4 linked regions of the Homo sapiens genome follow. The protein of the gene in region 1 purifies or fractionates together with the protein of each later gene. This does not show direct contact. Each region holds a gene or a part of one and is shown on either strand. Other genes may lie near its edges.

Region 1 (3,500 bases):
AGCCTGGGTGACAGAGCAAGACCTTGTCTTAAACAAAAACAACAGAAAACCACTTTAGTTGTCATTTAAAGTTAAATGCCATATTTTCTCATTTTGCTAGTTCTAAAGGAAAGTACACAACTGTGAAATAATAAGATGACAAGTAAACTTAGCTCAATGTCCCTGGAGGAAAATGCCTGAAAACAGTTAACAGGCCTGAGGGGAAGGCAAGGAAACACGACCAGAACATTCCTCCAACATCAGGAGGAGAACAGGTCTAAGGCTGGATATGCAGCAGAATTCTGTGATCCCAAACACACACCATGTAGACGTAACTTAATTATAGGCGTCCTATGAGTGGGCTTTACAATGCTGTTTCCATTATTCTACCCTATGATATACAGGGACAGGCACGGCAGGGAACAGACAGAGAGACATCACATATACCACGGGAGTGCTACTGGATGATTTACCGGATAGGAAAGAACTGGGTAGAACAGGAATCCTTTAATTTAAAATCAAACTCATGCCCATAAAACTGGTAGAATTAAGAAATGTGTGCAGTAGGGAGGAGGAAGGAATGTTCCCTTTTACCACCTCACCTTTAGCGATCAAAGAAAAAATAATTTAAACGTCTACGGAGAAACGAAGGAGATGGAAGGAGGAGCATGGATCCAAACAAGATGGTGGCGGCAGGATGAAGGGGAATGGCGCCCCACCTGGACACTAACAGAACACCAGGGAAGGAGAAGCTGGCACCAGAGCTGCTTGGGTGCTGGGCATTTCTTTTGAGATGGAGTCTCGTTCTGTCGCCCAGCCTGGAGTGCAGTGGCGCGATTTCAGCTCACTACAACCTCTGCCTCCTGGTTCAAGTGATTCTCCTGCCTCAGCCTCCCGAGTAGCTGGGATTACAGGTGCCCACCACCACGCCCGGCTAATTTTTGTATTTTTAGTAGAGACGGGGTTTCACCATGTTGGCCAGGCTGTTCTCAAACTCCTGACCTCAGGTTATCCACCTGCCTTGGCCTCCCAAAGTGCCGGGATTACAGGCGTGAGCCACTGTGCCCGGCCAATCAAATAATATTTATCACATATTACCATAATGGTTTTAAAAAAGAAAATATGCAAGTGGGGGTCTAGAAAATTCTGTCATTACTAATAACTACCCCATACCAAGTATATCTAGCTTCAGCGTAACTGAGGCTAATTTTATGGCTCAGTGTATCTGAGGGAAACTGGCGTTCCCACTGGAAGGAGAGGACCTGAGAGGTGCCCCCAATGGTTCCTAGTGAGGCCCGGGGGACCATTTCTCTCCTGTGCTCCTCCCTCTAGGAGTGAGTGTCATGGTCTCCCCTCTCTTGAAAGATGAATGTCCTCACCGGGGAAGGCACGAGATCCTCTTAACTTCACCAACTCTTTTTGTAAAGTTCCCAAAGCTATGCAAAGGTCTGGATTCTGAGAAGGATACAAAAGCATCTTTACTTGCACAGGAGTGAAACATCAGCTTGAGTGGCCGGGCGCGGTGGCTCACGCCTATAATCCCAGCACTTTGGGAGGCCTGGCGCGGTGGCTCACGCCTATAATCCCAGCACTTTGGGAAGCTGAGGTGGGCGGAGTTCGAGATCAGCCTGGCCAACATGGTGAAACCCTGTCTCTACTAAAAATACCAAAAAAAAAAAAAAAAAAAAAAAATAGCCGGGTGTGGTGGCACGAGCCTGTAATCCCAGTACTTGGGAGGCTGAGGCAGGAGAACTGCTTGAAGTTGGGAGGCGGAGGTTGCAGTGAGCCAAGATCGCGCCACTGGAGGACAGAGTGAGACTCTGTCTCAAAAAAAAGAGTCAACTGTGTTTATCGTGTGAGCTCTTCAGCAGCGCTCCTGCCTGGGTTGGTTTCTGCCCCGGGCCTGGTCCTATCTACGTCTAAGCAGCCATGAGTTACTGGCCACAGCGAGGGATTTGCTCCATGGCTATGGGTAATGCTCTGTATTTGTGCAAAATTTAAGATGATTAAAAATAAAGAACCACTTCACAAAGAAGTATTCCAGAACATCAAGCTAGTTGACCCAAAAAGATCTGGTAAAATATTCCTTCAAGGGAGAGGGATTGAGGCAAAATCCACTGACCCAGGCACAGGAAAGCATGAAAGAAAAACTGTCACTCACCAAAGTGAAGCTTCTGGAGCGAGAGCTGCTGCTTCGACTCTCCAGGCTGCCGCCTCTGCTGAAGGCTCGGAGCCTGCAGCTGGGGGACGTGTCTGAGTTCATGTCAGATGCGTCTGATTTCCGGTGGGTTACAGGCATCTCCACAGAGTCCTCAGGGCCGGCTCGATCACAGGAAGCAGGGCAGGAGCCAGCAGCCCATTCTGCGGCAACAGCTCACTCCTAGAGACACCAAACACGAATGACAATGGTCAGTAAGCCGAGACTGTAAAACGCCTCAATCCCTCAAAAACATGGCTTAGATTAATCTCCACTCTCAGACTCGACCATTAGGGTAAAGGCGATTGGGAAACGCTAAGTCAACCAGTTTGAGGATGCTGACTGCCATGTCTCCTTTATATTGTTAACCATTCTGAACACATAAGAATAATTTTTAAAAGTTTGTTGTTGTTTTTTTTTCAGAGATAGAGTCTTGCTATGTTGTCCAGGCTGACACTGAACTCTTGGGCTCCAACGATCCTCCTGCCCCGGCCTCCTGAGTACCTGGGATTATAGGCACAAGTCACCATGCCCAGCCGGAATAATCTGAAGGAAAGACGGGTATATTCAAGATGACTTTGCTGCTGGAAATATGACAGAATAATGTGGTATCTTCTTCTGCACTTCCAAGCTCTTTCACACTCAGGCTCTTCCTGGCTTTTCTGCCTCAGCCACCATAAACTGTGGTTGCTTCTCCAGCTCTGTTACAGTTCAGACTTGAGGGGAGGTGACAAGAGCTAACATGTTACCATGGGGAGCCTGGCTGACATCTCCGAAACTGAAGACTCTATGGAAGCCTCATGCTATTGCAATGTGTACATCAAAAGTAAAGTACCCCAGGTTAAAACTATGAGGAAGTTGCCATCTTTACTTCCAGGAGCAAAGACACTGAAACTGTCCCCTGTAAGCCCCTTAATTTCATACAGTCCTCTGACTGCCCCCCCAACCCTGGCTACTTTTTTTTGAAATAAGGTCTCACTCTGTCATCCAGGCTGGAGTGCAGTGGCAAAATCACAATACCCTGCAGCCTTGACCTCATGGGCTCAAGCAGTCCTCCCACCTCAGCCTCCTGGGTAGCTGGGACTACAGGCTTGCACTACCACACCCAGCTTATTTTTTGTAGAGACAGAGTTTCGTCATGTTGCCCAGGCTGGTCTCAGGAGTCACTCCTGAGCTCAAGTGATCCGCCTGCCTTGGCCTCCCACAGTGCTGGGATTACAGGAGTGAGCCACCATGTCTGGTCCTCTGACCCTTTTAGCAGGAAATCCAGCCCAGCCCCTGAACGGCATGTTAGACAGTTCAACAAAGCCTTCTAGAAGACCAA
Region 2 (4,685 bases), on another chromosome or scaffold:
TCTTTCCCCCTTTCCTTGACAAGGATATTTTGGCTTTGCTGTAACACTTCCAGAACCAAGCTTGAGTTCTACCTCTTGTCTTGGTCTGGCTGTGGAGATATTTCTTCCCTGGCTAAATCCCAAAGCCCTGGGCTGCCCTGCCGGTACCTCCCGCCTCCCTCACAGAGACACTCCAGCTAGGAGGAATGAACAAGCTGCTCCCGCTGGAACAAAGACCCTCATGACATGTAAGGGGCTCTTCTTTTCTTCAAAGAGATTAGGTTCCTTGCCCCAAAATGAGTCAGGGACATGTTGCCAGTGGTTCTTTCTCAGGTTTTGGTGGTTATTTGGCCCCTTCTCAGCTTCTTAGAAAGGTTTTTAGTAAATCTATCACGGGAAGACATGAATCTATTTATTTTATTATTATTTTTTTGAGACGGAGTCTCGCTCTGTCACCCAGGCTGGAGTGCAGCGGTGAGATCTCGGCTCACGGCAACCTCTGCCTCTTGGGTTCAAGCAATTCTCCTGCCTCAGCTTCCTGAGTAGCTGGGATTACAGGTGCGCGCTACCATGCCCAGCTAATTTTTGAATTTTTAGTAGAGATGGGGTTTTACCATGTTGGTCAGGCTGGTCTCAAACTCCTGACCTTCAGTGATCCACCTGCCTCGGCCCTCCCAAAGTGCTGGGATTACAGGTGTGAGCCACCGCGCCCAGCCGGCATGAATCGAAAAGTCACAATAGCCGTTCTCTCCCATGGTTACTGGGTGACGGCCTCCTTCAGTCCTCAGCCTCATGAGGTGTGTGCTCTTCTCATCCACACCTTATAGCTGACAAAATCAAGGCCTAAACGCTTTGGCTAAAATAAGACAGAGCCGTGCTTCTAACTACCAGACTCATGATCTCTACACTGATCCTGATGAAACTCTCTACCTACTACTTCACCTTCTCACACAAGACCTGACCCATTCACAGGCTGGGGCAGGCGTCCTTAATACCAGTAACTGGCTGGGCCAAGCTTTCTGCCCCGTTTGGGGACCAGAAGGTCTGGGGTTTCCCGAAGCTGAAGTGCAGTCCCTCCTAGGTCAGGAGGCAGCTGCTCCACCCTCTCCTCTGGTTCTATCTGTAACACCCCCACCCCCTACACACCTCTCCTGCCCTTGCTGGCACTGGCTTTCCTCCCACTCTCTCGAGATCTGGGACGGCTCCCCGAGTCAGCGCCTCATGAAGTGGACAGGAGGTGCCACTCTGGAGAGGGGATGACTAGACCAATTCCTGCCCCCCCTAACACTTCTATTCTGAGACAGTTCCCATGCCAGCAGGGTCAGTGTAACCTGACTTCCTAGACCTTCTGGCCCCCCACTCCCTCCTCACCTGGTGTCATAGTCGTTGGAGTTCCTATCAAACTTGTAGGTGGGCGGGAAGAGTAGGCGGCCCTCCTGGAACTCCCGGAGCAGCGGGTCATGTTTCTTGGCAATGCTGAGCTGCAGACAAAGTCATAGTCCCCGTCTCCCAGTAGTCTCGACCCAGTGGCCCAGTACCACACTCCATTCAAGGGATCAGCACATGCCGTCACAAATGGGGCAAGAGTCAAGCAATGCCACTCCAATTCCTCACTGCCCCAGTGACTACTCAGCAGCCCACTCCCACCAGAAAGCAGGCGAATCCTTTCGGAAACATTACCAAGGCCCAGGGGAGGCAGCTGTCTGCCGTTTCCCAGTCCTTAGACTGCAGGGACCCAACTTGGAATTCCATCTCTAGGGGAGATCACTAGCAGACATGTGTCAGAGGGGAACCTGGGGAAGCCAGGGTTCTCCAAAGGGGCACCTCACCCTCCAAGAGGGAAACGAGGCTGGGGATGGGAAAGACGACAGGGACACGATGGGCTGACGCATGATGGTACCTGGTGCAAAGCCCTTCTGGTTCCCTATTCTTCTTCTTTTTTTTTTTTTGAGATGGAGTTTTGCTTTTGTTGCCCAGGCTGGAGTGCAATGGCGCTATCTCTGCTCACTGCAACCTCTGCCTCCCGGGTTCAAGCGATTCCCCTACCTCAGCCTCCCGAGTAGCTGGGATTACAGGCACGTGCCACCACGCCCGGCGAATTTTTTTTTGTATTTTTAGTAGAGATGAGGTTTCTCCAAGTTGGTCAGGCTGGTCTCAAACCCCCGACCTCAGGTGATCCACCCACCTCGGCCTCCCAGAGTGCTGGAATTACAGGCATAAGCCACCGTGCCCGGCCCCTATTCTTCTTTTTTAAATAATTCATTTCATGCTTTGTATCTGACTCTCTATTCTAAAGCACATCCAGGGTCTGTTACCCTGGCTTTTCCATGTGAAGATCAGGCGTGGCTGCCTCACCCCTGGATGCGAAGCCCTGCTAGACAGCCTCCCCCACCAGACCTGGGCAAAAGAAAACAGCAGCGAGGGCATCTAGCAACACTCTGCACAGCTCACATGGCCCCCACCGTGGGCTCAGATCACCCCCTGGGACCCTCCCCTCACTGGATACCTGGTCCTTCTCCCACAGGCCACCGTAGCACCGATTTTTAATGGATTCCCGAACAAAGTGCAACCCAAAGTCCTCGATCCGAAAGTTCATGTCTCCAAACCAGATAATGAGGCTTCAGAAAAAAAGGAGGGCAGCCTGAGGATTTGTGATGAAGTCGGGGAAGGGAGATCACCAGGTGGCTCAGCCTGCTCAACCCAAGGGCTGCTGGGGCACAGAAAACCTGAGGGGCAAGTGAGACGCCAGGGCACGCGTGGGTCCTCTGGAACTGTTCTCATGGCTCCTAAACCACCATTCAAACCGGAGAGACCTACCAAAGAGCCTGCTCTGGCAAACACAGAGCAGGCTGTGGCCCTTCCTTCCTCTCCTTAACTGGTCACGAGGAAAGGCTGAGAAGCCCTCCTGGTGACCTCAGGAGCCACAAGGTCCTTGACCTGTTCCCAAGTGTTCAGGGTTTCTAAGCAAGACAGACGGGCTGGAGGAAGGGGACCCCAGGCAGGCAAAGCAAGGGGAGACAGCAGATGGGCACCAGGGAAGGGTCAGGGAGAGGGTGGGAGCCAGAACACTGACGACACTGGCTGGGGGATCCGTGATGGAGCAGAGGATGCTGGCTTGGGTTAGCGTGGGGCAGAGGGCGGGGAACAGTCTGCAGACCCAGGCTCACTCGTGGCGGTCAGCTGGGGCAGAGGGCGGGGAACAGTCTGCAGACCCAGGCTCACTCGTGGGGGTCAGCGTGGGGCAGAGGGCGGGGAACGGTCTGCAGACCCAGGCTCACTCGTGGCGGTCAGCGTGGGGCAGAGGGCGGGGAACGGTCTGCAGACCCAGGCTCACTCGTGGGGGTCAGCGTGGGGCAGAGGGCGGGGAACAGTCTGCAGACCCAGGCTCACTCGTGGCGGTCAGCGTGGGGCAGAGGGCGGGGAACAGTCTGCAGACCCAGGCTCACTCGTGGGGGTCAGCGTGGGGCAGAGGGCGGGGAGCGGTCTGCAGACCCAGGCTCACTCGTGGGGGTTAGTGGGGGTTAGCGTGGGGCAGAGGGCGGGGAACGGTCTGCCAGACCCAGGCTCACTCGTGGTCCAGGATGTTTGGGATGTCTCGCCCCTCACAATTCTGCATCTCCAGGATCCGGTCAAAGTGCTCCAGCCGCTGGTAATTGTTGGAAATGTGGGGAGGCAGGTGGCAGTTGATGATGCTGACATAGTAGCCATAAAGCTTCAGGCAGATGTTGACTCCACCTTTGTTCCCCTGGTAGAACAGGTCAACAGAAGAGTGGGAAGCTACTCGGGTTGGACACACCCCTCTTTCCACATCCTGGACCTGAGGGCAGACAGTCTCACTTCCTGCAGGGTCTCCTAGGGACAGTAACTAAGCTTCCCAGGGTGATCTCTCCATGCACAGAGCCCAGCTCGCCTCGCCTGGCCTCAGGGATAGCAAGCCCACTCTGAGGCAAAAGAACAAACATGCATTGGGCTGGACAGAGGACCAAGATTCCTTTCACTTCCTTTTTCTTTTGCCCAGCTCCACAGTTCCCAGCCCTTCCCAGCTCACGACTCAGACAATAGCTCAGTCCTTACCCAGTACCCAAACAGGCCAGTGGGGGTGGATTTAGTAGACAGAATCTGGATATAGGGCAAATGCTGATACTTGGCAAAGACCAGTAAGAGGATCCCCTGCATACGGACATGGGAGACCTGCAGGAGAGAGAGGGCAAAGGTCGCTCATTAAACCACACAGGCCAAGTGCATCCCTTCCAAGCTCCGTGCTAGGGACTCTAGAGAGCCCTCAGCTACATGCAGTGTCCTGCTCCAGGGTCTACGATATCCCAGTTTGAATCTCAGAGTTTCAAGCCTTTCCATTCTTCTTCTCAGCTGCCAAATGATACATTCTGGGGGCTGAGGTTTTCGATTCTGCGCCTAGGCGTGCGGGTGGCGGGAAGAGAAGATAAGCTAAGGATACTGGCTTTGAAGTTAGATCTGGGTTCAAACCCTGGCTCTGATTCTTAGTATTTGACATTGAGGCAGTTTCTCAGTGTATTTTCTCATTGATAAAGTAGGAATCCATCTCATAGATGCTGTGGGGATTATCTGAAAGCTATTATTTTTTGGTTTCAGCATTCTTTTTTTTTTGAGACGGAGTCTCGCTCTGTCGCCCAGGCTGGAGTGCAATGGCGTGGTCTCGGCTCACTGCAACCTCCACCTCCTGGGTT
Region 3 (4,685 bases), on another chromosome or scaffold:
CCCAGCTCTAAAAACAAAACAAAACAATAAAACAATAATTAGCTGTGTGTGGTGGCGTATGCCTGTACTCCCAGCTACTTGGGAGGCTGAAGTGGGAGGATCCCTTGAGCCCAGCAGGTTGAGACTGCAGTGAGCCATGACTGCACCACTGCACTCTAGCCTGGGTGACAGAGATGGATCCTGTCTCAAACAAACTAATTATTCAGGTAGGGCACGGTGGCTCACACCTGTAATCCCAGCACTTTGGGAGGCCAAGGGAAGCAGATCACCTGAGGTCAGGAGTTCGAGACCAGCCTGACCAACATGGTGAAACCCTGTCTCTACCTAAAACACAAAAAATTAGCCAGGCACGGTGGCGGGTGCCTGTAATCCCAGCTACTCAGGAGGCTGAAGCAGGAGAATCATTTGAAATCGGGAGACGGAGGTTGCAGTGAGGCAAGATCACACCACTGCACTCCAGCCTGGGCAACAGAGCGAGACCCCATCTGTCTCAAAACAAACAAACAAAACAAAGTCAGCCGGGCGCAGTGGCCCACGCCTGTAATCCCAGCACTCTGGGAGGCTGAGGCAGGAGAATCACCTGAGGTCAGGAGTTCCAGACCAGCCTGGCCAACGTGGTGAAACCCCGTCTCTACTAAAAATACAAAAATTAGCAGGGTATGGTAGCAGGCATCTTAATCCCAGCTACTCAGGAGGCTGAGGTCCGCGCTTGAACCCAGGAGGCAGAGGTTACAGTGAGCCGAGATCGCGCCATTGCACTCAGCCTGGCCGACAGAGTGAGACTCCCTCTCAAAATAACAGTAGTAATAAATAAATAAAGTCGTTGCTTGCAGGCTGTACAAAAAAAGGCAGCAACTGGACTTGGCCCCTAACTCATAGTTTGCCAAAACTCTGCTCTAAAGTTTGCTTGCTTCATTCACTTCTCAGAGCCTGGCCCTGGGAGCCGCCTATCCCAGTCCTCATCCCACATGGCCAGCGTTCTCCTACCTTCAATGATCTTTGCTGCAAACTCTCGGATAGACTTGAGGGAAGCCAAGTCCAGGTGCCGGGCGTTGACATGGTGATTGAGGGTCTCCCCGCGGATGTCCTTTGCTGCCGCCTCACACTTCTCCATGTCTCGGCAGGCCAGGATGATGTTGCCTCCTGAAAACCCAGGATGGAAAAAGATTTAAATTAATAATCCACTCCTGGGTACTGACCCCAGAGACATGAAAACATACGTCTACACAAAAACACATCCACCAATGTTCACTGCGGCATTCTTCACAAAAGCCAAAAGGTAGAAACAACCAAATGCCCATCTGTGGATGAAGGGACAACAAAATGTGGTCCATCCATAGAGATGGAATATTAGACGGCCGTGAAAAGGAGTGAAGCACTGGCTCATGCTACAGCAAGGATGACCGTCAGAAACACTGTGCTCGGGGAAAGAAACCAGACACGAAAGACCACACAGCGTACAATCCCATTTACATGAATTCTATGTATATGATTTCACACCTATGAAACGCCCAGAATAGGCAAATCCATAGAGAAAGAAAATAGATTCTTGGTTTTCTAGGGCAGGGGGTGGGGAGAGGGAATTACAGCTTGATAGTTACAGTGAGCAGGTTTCTTTCTAGGGTAACAGATGTTCTAAGATTGATTTTAAAGATGGTTGCATCATTCTGTGACTATACTAAACATCACTGAATTGGTCGGGCACGGTGGCTCACACCTGTAATTCCAGCACTTTGGGAGGCCAAGGCAAGAGGATTCCCCATCCTCTCCTTTTTTTTTTTTTTTTAGATGGAGTCTCACTCTGTCACCCAGGCTGGAGTGCGGTGGCGCAATCTCGGCTCACTGCAACCTCCACCTCCTGGGTTCAAGCAATTCTCCTGCCTCAGCCTCCCGAGTAGCTGGGATTACAGGCACCTACCACAACTAGCTAATTTTTTATTTTTTTATTTTTAGTAGAGACAGCGGTTTCACCATGTTAGCCAAGCTAGTCTTGAACTTCTGACCTCAGGTGATCCACCCCGCGGCCTCCCAAAGTACTGGGATTACAAATAAGCCACAATGCCCAGCCTCCAATTTTTTTTGTTGTGGTAAAATACAAATCACTTAAAATTTATCATCTTAACCCCCTTTTCTTTTTGTTTATTATTATTTTTTTTTTTTTGAGTCAGTCTCACTCTGCTGCCGCGGCTGGAGTGCTGGCGCCATCACAGCTCATTCAGCCTTGAACTCCTAGGCTCAAGTGACCTGGGACTATAGGTACCACCTGTGCCAGCATGCCTGGCTAACTCTGGTAGAGATGGGGGTGTTGCTATGGTGTCCAGGCTGGTCTGGAACCCCTGGCCTCAAGTGATCCTCCTGCCTCAGCCTCCAAAAGTGCTGGAATTATAGATGTGAGCCACCGAGACCCGCCCTCTTAGCCATTTTTAAGTGTCCAGTTCATTGGTATTAAAAACATTTATGGCTGGGCCGGGCATGGTGGCTCACACCTGTAATCCCAGCACTTTGGGAGACCAAGGCAGGTGGATCACCTGAGGTCAGGAGTTCAAGACCAGCCTGGCCAACACATTACAAACTTAGCTGGGTGTGGTGTTGCATGCCTGTAATCCCAGCTACTCGGGTGGCTGAGGCAGGAGAATTGCTTGAACCCGGGAGGCGAAGGTTGCAGTGAGCCAAGATCATGCCACTGCACTCCAGCCTGGGCGACAAGAGCAAAACTCCATCTCAAAAAAAAAAAAACAATAATAATAATTCCTAATGTTGTGCAACCATTACAACCATCCATCTCTCAAATTGTTTCATCTTGCCAAACTAAACTTCCGTTTCCATTAAACAGTAACTCCCCATTCTCCCCTCCCCTCCTGACCCCTGGCAAGCACCATTCCAACTTCTCTATGAATTTAACTGTAGGTAGCTCCTGTAAGTGGAATCATACCGTATTTGCTCTTCTGTCGACTGGCTTATTTCACTTCATGGAATGTCCTCAAGGTTCATCTGTTTCAATGCCCTTTTTTTTGTTTTGCTTTGTTTTGTTTTGTTTTTGAGTCTCACTCTGTCACCCAGGCTGGAGTGCCGTGGCGCCATCTCTGCTCACTGCAACCCCTGCCTCTCAGGTTCAAGCGATTCTCCTGCTTCAGCCTCCCAAGCAGCTGGGACTACAGGTGCCCACCACAACTCCTGGCTAATTTTTGTATTTTTAGTAGAGAGGGGGTTTCACCATGTTGGTTAGGCTGGTCTCGAACTCCTGACCTCGTGATCCGCCAGCTTTGGCCTCCCAAAGTACTGATTACAGGCGTGCACCACCGCGCCCGGCCAGAATGCCCTTCCTTTTTAAGGCTGAATCATATGCCCCTGTCTATAGAAGCCACATTCTGTTTCCCTGTTCATCTGTGGATGGGTGCCTGGGTTCCTTCCACCTCCGGACTGTGAATAATGCTGCAGTGAGCATGGATGTACAGATATCTCTCTGAGAGCCAAAGCAGGGGAGATTTTACCTCTCCTGGCCAGTTCCAAGGCGGTCTGCTTCCCGATGCCTGTGTTGGCACCCGTCACGATGACCGTCTTCCCAGGGATGGTGGCCTTGCTGGGGCAAGCCCCACCGGTGACATAGTCCCTGAGGGTGAGAAGCGGCACGGTCAGTCCTGTGGGCCCACTCTCACCCCACGTGCCCCTGACTGAATGATCTCAGGCAACCTTGTCTGAGCTCACTCACATACCCCAACTGAAACACAGACATCATCACATCACACCAAGGGACCTCTGTCATGTTCTCCATAAGTGGCTCCACCCAGTGTCTGGCGTGTGGAACGCCTTCAGCAAGTGACAGTCATTATTTTATAAATGCTCACTGCATGAGATTCCCGGCCAGGTGAGGGGGCTTGCACCTGTAATCCCAGCACTTTGGGAGGCCAAAGTTTTGGGGGTGGGGGGGGGCGGGGGCGGATCACTTGAGGTCAGGAGTTCGAGTCCAGCCTGGCAAACATGGCGAGACCCCGTCTCTACTTAAAATACAAAAATTAGCCAGATGTGTAGGGAAAAGAGAGATTAGACTGTTACTGTGTCTATATAGAAAGGAAAGACATAAGAGACTCCATTTTGAAAAAGACCTGTACTTTGAACAATTGCTTTGCTGAGATGTTGTTAATTTGTAGCTTTGACCCAGCCACTTTGACCCAATCTGGAGCTCACAAAAACCTGTGTTGTATGAAATCAAGGTTTAAGGGATCTAGGGCTGTGCAGGAAGTGCCTTGTTAACACAATGTTTCCAAGCAGTATACTTGGTAAAAGTCATCGCCAGTCTCTAGTCTCAATAAACCAGGGGCACGATGCACTGCAGAAAGCTGCAGGGACCTCTGCCCTTGAACACAGAGTATTGTCCAAGGTTTCTCCCCGTGGGATAGTCTGAAATATGGCCTCGTGGGATGAGAAAGACCTGACCGTCCCCCAGCCCAACACCCGTAAAGGGTCTGTGCTGAGGTGGATTGGTAAAAGAGGAAAGCCTCTTGCAGTTGAGAGAGAGGAAGGCCACTGTCTCCTGCCTGACCCTGGGAACTGAATGTCTCGGTATAAAACCTGATTGTACATTTGTTCAATTCTGAGACAGGAGAAAAGCCGCCCTATGGCGGGAGGCGAGACATGTTTACAGCAATGCTGCCTTGTTATTCTTTACTCCGCTGAGATGTTTGGGT
Region 4 (4,685 bases), on another chromosome or scaffold:
CAAGATCTCATACCTCATTCCCATATATACCAAACTTCTGGTATTCCCTTAAACAGACACAAATATGCCCTCACACCTACACCCACAGTAAATTAAGTCGCTGAAGGAAATTACTATCATATAATGCTTCTGTATTTCTCTTTAATGGAGCATGTAGAACACCTTTTCCCTACACATAATAGGATTAATATTTAAAAGCATCATCTTCAGCCAAGTGCAAACCTTTGTCTGCCCTCAGGGAAAGACTAGCCAATGAGAGGTTATTCTGGTGATGTAATGCTTGTTACCTTGCTCTCTTTCAGGCATGATTGGGGAAGATGCTTTTCAGAACATCAAACATGAATAGAATTTAACTCTTTCTCACATGACTAATTTTAGCACATAAGCCACCTGCAGTATTTCATAAATGTGTTGCTTAAGATCGCCCTGAAATAGTTATGCAAAATCATTAGAGTAGAGAATTTTTGTTAAGCATTGACATCTGTATCCACTGGCACTTGCCAATAGCTCCCCACCTTTCTTGAGAGATCACTTACTTCTGTATCCTGATCCTTACGTAAATGGGCAAAGAATATATTAACACTAGCCAGCAGCAGATAAGCTTATTATTTCCTTCTCAGACACAGATACTCATGAAAATCAAATCAAAAGGAATAGAAACCTAATATGTGTTTTCCAAAGTCAAATTAATCACTCTGTCTCTCATGACCATATACAGGGTTTATCTTCATATCCATATACTTTATTTCAAAAACAAAAAAGATTTAAGCAAGTATTTTAATAACCAGGTGTGTTTACAATGATATTATAATCTTCTGCCTCGTGAATAATTTTCAGATCTCTATTGATGCTACTAAATGTTTATTAATGTTCAGAGAAGCCCTAGCCCAGATCAGGTGAAGACCTATTACCCCTTACATAGCCTGATTCTATGAAAACTGATAGGCAGGACAGGGTGAATATGTGTTGGTTTCCACCAGCGAAGTATGCAAAAATGCAGACACTGAGCTAAAAAATTTCCGGCGGATATTATTTCATGTAGTATCTCATTCCCATTCCCTCCTCCTCCACCCAAACCTCACTTTTTGAGCAAAAGAATGCAATAGTAAGCATGTTGTCTGAAAAACATAATTTGGAAGAGGAAGATAATGATACCTGAGCATACCAGTGGTTTATCTGATCTGACACCAGGAATAAAGCAACTCAGACTGCTAAGCCAGCTGTGTAATTTGAAGTGTAATATGTAGTTCAGAGATGATGAGCTATGAGAACTTATAGTCAAAATGTTGGAAAATTAATATATTAGAATCTTTTCCTCTTCATTTCTTTTTTCCAGAATATCCTGCTAACACTTTGAGAAAACTGAGTTAATTTTTGGCACTTGAGCCATTCTTTGGACTTTTCTACTCGTTTAGGTCATGATAATACAGTTGCATTGGAATGGGGTGAAATTATGGGATTATAGAGCATTTCAAACCTGGCTGTGAATAATGTCTGTACATATAGGAGAGTGATAAGTCACTGTAACTTCACTGAGCCACAGTTTCCTCATCTATTAAAATGAAATAATTAAATATTAATTATTAAAACAGCATAATTCTTGGCAAGTAATTAATAAGTACTCAATTGATAGTAGCTATGGTTTTTACTATTTTTTTCATAGACAAATAATATCAAAGCTGCTTTACCTTTCAAAGTTAGAAACCAAACTATATAAAAATAATTTTATACCCACAATAGGTTTTCTGATATAACAAATTGTATGCCACTTTTAAATTTTGAAATAAATCATTTTGTTTTCCATTGAAGATTCAATTTGCACTTGATTTTTACTTTCCCATATTATTTAGCAGAATTTTATTTTTATATATTAATATTTCAAAGTTAGTGCTTTACAAATATATGACTTTGTGTTCTATTAGTATAAATGGTAGTAGTAGTGTAAATAGTAGTAGTACTGTAAGTAGTAGTAGCAGCAGCAGCAGCAGCAGTAGCAGTAGCAGTAGCAGTAGCAGTAGCATAAATGTTACTTCTAAAGACCTGCCAAGTTTTAAACGCATTGCTTCTCCAGTGCTTGAGAAAAGGTCCTGGAAGGCATTTCTCAGGCCATTAAGTCAGCTTATTGAAAAGTGGAAAATGCAGTTTATCACCCTAAAGCAAAATGAGTAGCTCAAGTTTTTCAGTAAATTAGCTTAAACTAAATTGATATTGTTTACATCCAGTGAAAAGCACTGACACATTTCTGCAAATTGATTTTAGATTTTAAGTAAGGGCAATTTAAGTTCACTTTCTCAAAATCTGCTTAGTGCCTAACCTGTGTATGGAGATATTCTAAGATTAAAAACAACCACCACAATGACTTGGCTTCTGCCTTCTAGATGCTGATGTCTAGTTAAGGGAACAGACAGTGCACAGTGTCTTAAGTTCCATAATGGAGGTAGGTATAAAATTATTGGAAATATAGATGGTGGGGCTTTCAATTCAACACTGGAGGAATGAGTTTTTCAGAAAAATTGTAGACAGGTGACATTTCATTGGCTTTCAGGAAATAATGAGTTTCTTGTTTGGATAAGATGGAATAATGATCCAGGTAGAAGGAACAGTTAGAGCAAAGGAAGAAAGGACTAAAAATTCATAGCTGTTTATTGAATGGCTATTGACCCATTCTAATGTTTCTATAGAATAGAATGCATTAGATGGAAATGTGGCAATGGAAAGGTTGTGCTTTCTGTATAGAGACGCTGTTTGGAAAACTGAAATATTACCTTCCAAATCATAGTATTCTTATATTTTCTTTATAGCATCCCATCAGAAAATTCATAACACATGTTAACTATATATATTTTGTGATGTATTTAAGCTTACTGGACCTTTCTTCAAGTAAAACAATGTTATTCCTTTGCTTTTCCTCAGATTTAAAAAATTATTCCAATGTACTATTCACTTCAAATAAAGTAAAGGTAAATCCCACAAATCATCCTTCAAAAGGGCGACATAAGTTGTGCAAAAATAATACTAAAGATATAGACAACATCTATTTATTTTGATTCATGCAGAAGTCTATATGAGCTAATTGTAAAAGGCAATACATCTAAATAGCATGTGGTTAATAATGTCAGATTATGCATTAAAGAAATATTGTCTATGCTAACTTTTTACTAAAAGTTATTTGGAAAAACTTCATTGCTCTTATTCACACAGTAAACCACCATACCATCAAGTAAATGAATGCAGTAAGTCATTCACCTTTCATACTGTGGGTGTGAAAACATTCTTAAATAAAACTTGCTGAGAGTTATCTGCCATTTTCTTTAAGTATACAGATTCTCCATGACTTATGATGGGGTTACATCCCGGTAATCCTAAGTTGAAAATATCATTAGGTCAGAAATGCATTTAATACACCAAAGATCATACCTTAGTCTAGGCTACCATAAACATGCTCAGAACACTTACATTAGCCTATATTTGGACAAATAATCTCATAATGCAGTACATTGTAGAGTATTGGTTGATCATGGTTGTTCACCTTTGTGATCTCATGGCTGACTGGGAGCTTTGGCTTATTACCACTACTCAGCATCTTGAGAAGTATCGTATCACATATCACTAGCTGGGAGAAAGGTCACAATTCAAAATTTGAAGTATAGTTCCCACTGAATCTGTATGGCTTTTACACAGTTGAAAAATCAAAAAATTATAAGTGAAACCATTGCAAGCTGGGGACCATCTGTATTCACTGAATAAGTTCCCATACCTCTGAACAGGACTATGTATGTGTTCATAATTCAAGTATATTTAGTGATACTTACTAGACTTGAATTGAAATGTATTATCCACACATACATTGTGATATTGTTATAACAGGAATAATTCTATTTAATAAATGGTATGTGCTCAACTTTCTATATTCTATGTCCCTGTGTCCCTTTTGTGACCAGTATCATGTATTTTAGAATTAGTTAACTAGAATTACAGGTAACTGGGTCAATCATGGGTTTCATTATGTAAAACAAACTGAGCTGCATGGAGCTTGAACCTAGGTGTCGGTCCATTTTGGTCTTTCTGTCCACCTTAGATATCATCCACAGAAGTATTCGTCTAAGTGAGTGTGAGCGTGTGTGTGTGTGTGTGTGTGTGTGTCTGTTTATTACAGCCTACTTGATTCTAAAAATGATTTGTATATATAATGAAGAATCACTATATTCAGCATGTTTAAAAATATTAAAATCTCAGATATTTTAAAATAAAGAATATCTGTTTGTTTTTTTTCCTCATCAGCTGTTAAAAAGAAAGCTGGCTTTATCACTCCAGTTCCAGGAGGTGTGGGACCCATGACAGTGGCAATGCTTCTGAAGAACACCCTTCTGGCAGCTAAAAAAATCATTTACTAGATCACATGAAAGGATAAAGCAAACTGAAGTCATGCTATTTGTTTATTTGACAAAGGGTAAAACCTTTATATTTTACTACAAAGCTATTTATTTCTACATGGTATTTATTTTTTCATGGGTGAAATCATTGTGAATCAATTGATTCACATAGTTTTATGCATTTCCTGCTAATTTATTTTGAGTTTTAAGAAAACAACCAAAACAATTCCAATGAAAATTTTAGTAACAATTGTTTATTTTGAGGGTATTTGTTCATAACATTAAAACAATAAAGGGCTCATAATAAATAAA

Evidence for each region. The genes of interacting proteins can lie anywhere in the genome.
Region 2: the proteins of PROSER2 (region 1) and INPP5K purify together in Homo sapiens (affinity purification with mass spectrometry; 2 studies listed by BioGRID and IntAct, with this or other methods). This does not show direct contact.
Region 3: the proteins of PROSER2 (region 1) and RDH13 purify together in Homo sapiens (affinity purification with mass spectrometry; 2 studies listed by BioGRID and IntAct, with this or other methods). This does not show direct contact.
Region 4: the proteins of PROSER2 (region 1) and MTHFD2L purify together in Homo sapiens (affinity purification with mass spectrometry; 2 studies listed by BioGRID and IntAct, with this or other methods). This does not show direct contact.

Annotation. Positions count from the first base shown.
Region 1 is NC_000010.11:11,850,856-11,854,355, reverse strand, and holds part of PROSER2 (proline and serine-rich protein 2), read right to left. Parts: exon of another isoform or gene 2,600-3,500; intron 2,360-2,599; 5' UTR 2,279-2,359; coding exon 2,141-2,278; intron 1-2,140.
Region 2 is NC_000017.11:1,505,630-1,510,314, forward strand, and holds part of INPP5K (inositol polyphosphate 5-phosphatase K), read right to left. Parts: intron 4,171-4,685; coding exon 4,054-4,170; intron 3,725-4,053; coding exon 3,549-3,724; intron 2,598-3,548; coding exon 2,486-2,597; intron 1,461-2,485; coding exon 1,351-1,460; intron 1-1,350. UniProt on the Homo sapiens protein: Inositol 5-phosphatase which acts on inositol 1,4,5-trisphosphate, inositol 1,3,4,5-tetrakisphosphate, phosphatidylinositol 4,5-bisphosphate and phosphatidylinositol 3,4,5-trisphosphate.
Region 3 is NC_000019.10:55,055,666-55,060,350, forward strand, and holds part of RDH13 (retinol dehydrogenase 13 isoform 1 precursor), read right to left. Parts: intron 3,611-4,685; coding exon 3,492-3,610; intron 1,144-3,491; coding exon 988-1,143; intron 1-987. UniProt on the Homo sapiens protein: Retinol dehydrogenase with a clear preference for NADP. Oxidizes all-trans-retinol, but seems to reduce all-trans-retinal with much higher efficiency. Has no activity toward steroids.
Region 4 is NC_000004.12:74,297,416-74,302,100, forward strand, and holds part of MTHFD2L (bifunctional methylenetetrahydrofolate dehydrogenase/cyclohydrolase 2, mitochondrial), read left to right. Parts: intron 1-4,281; coding exon 4,282-4,394; 3' UTR 4,395-4,685. UniProt on the Homo sapiens protein: Bifunctional mitochondrial folate-interconverting enzyme that has both NAD/NADP-dependent methylenetetrahydrofolate dehydrogenase and methenyltetrahydrofolate cyclohydrolase activities.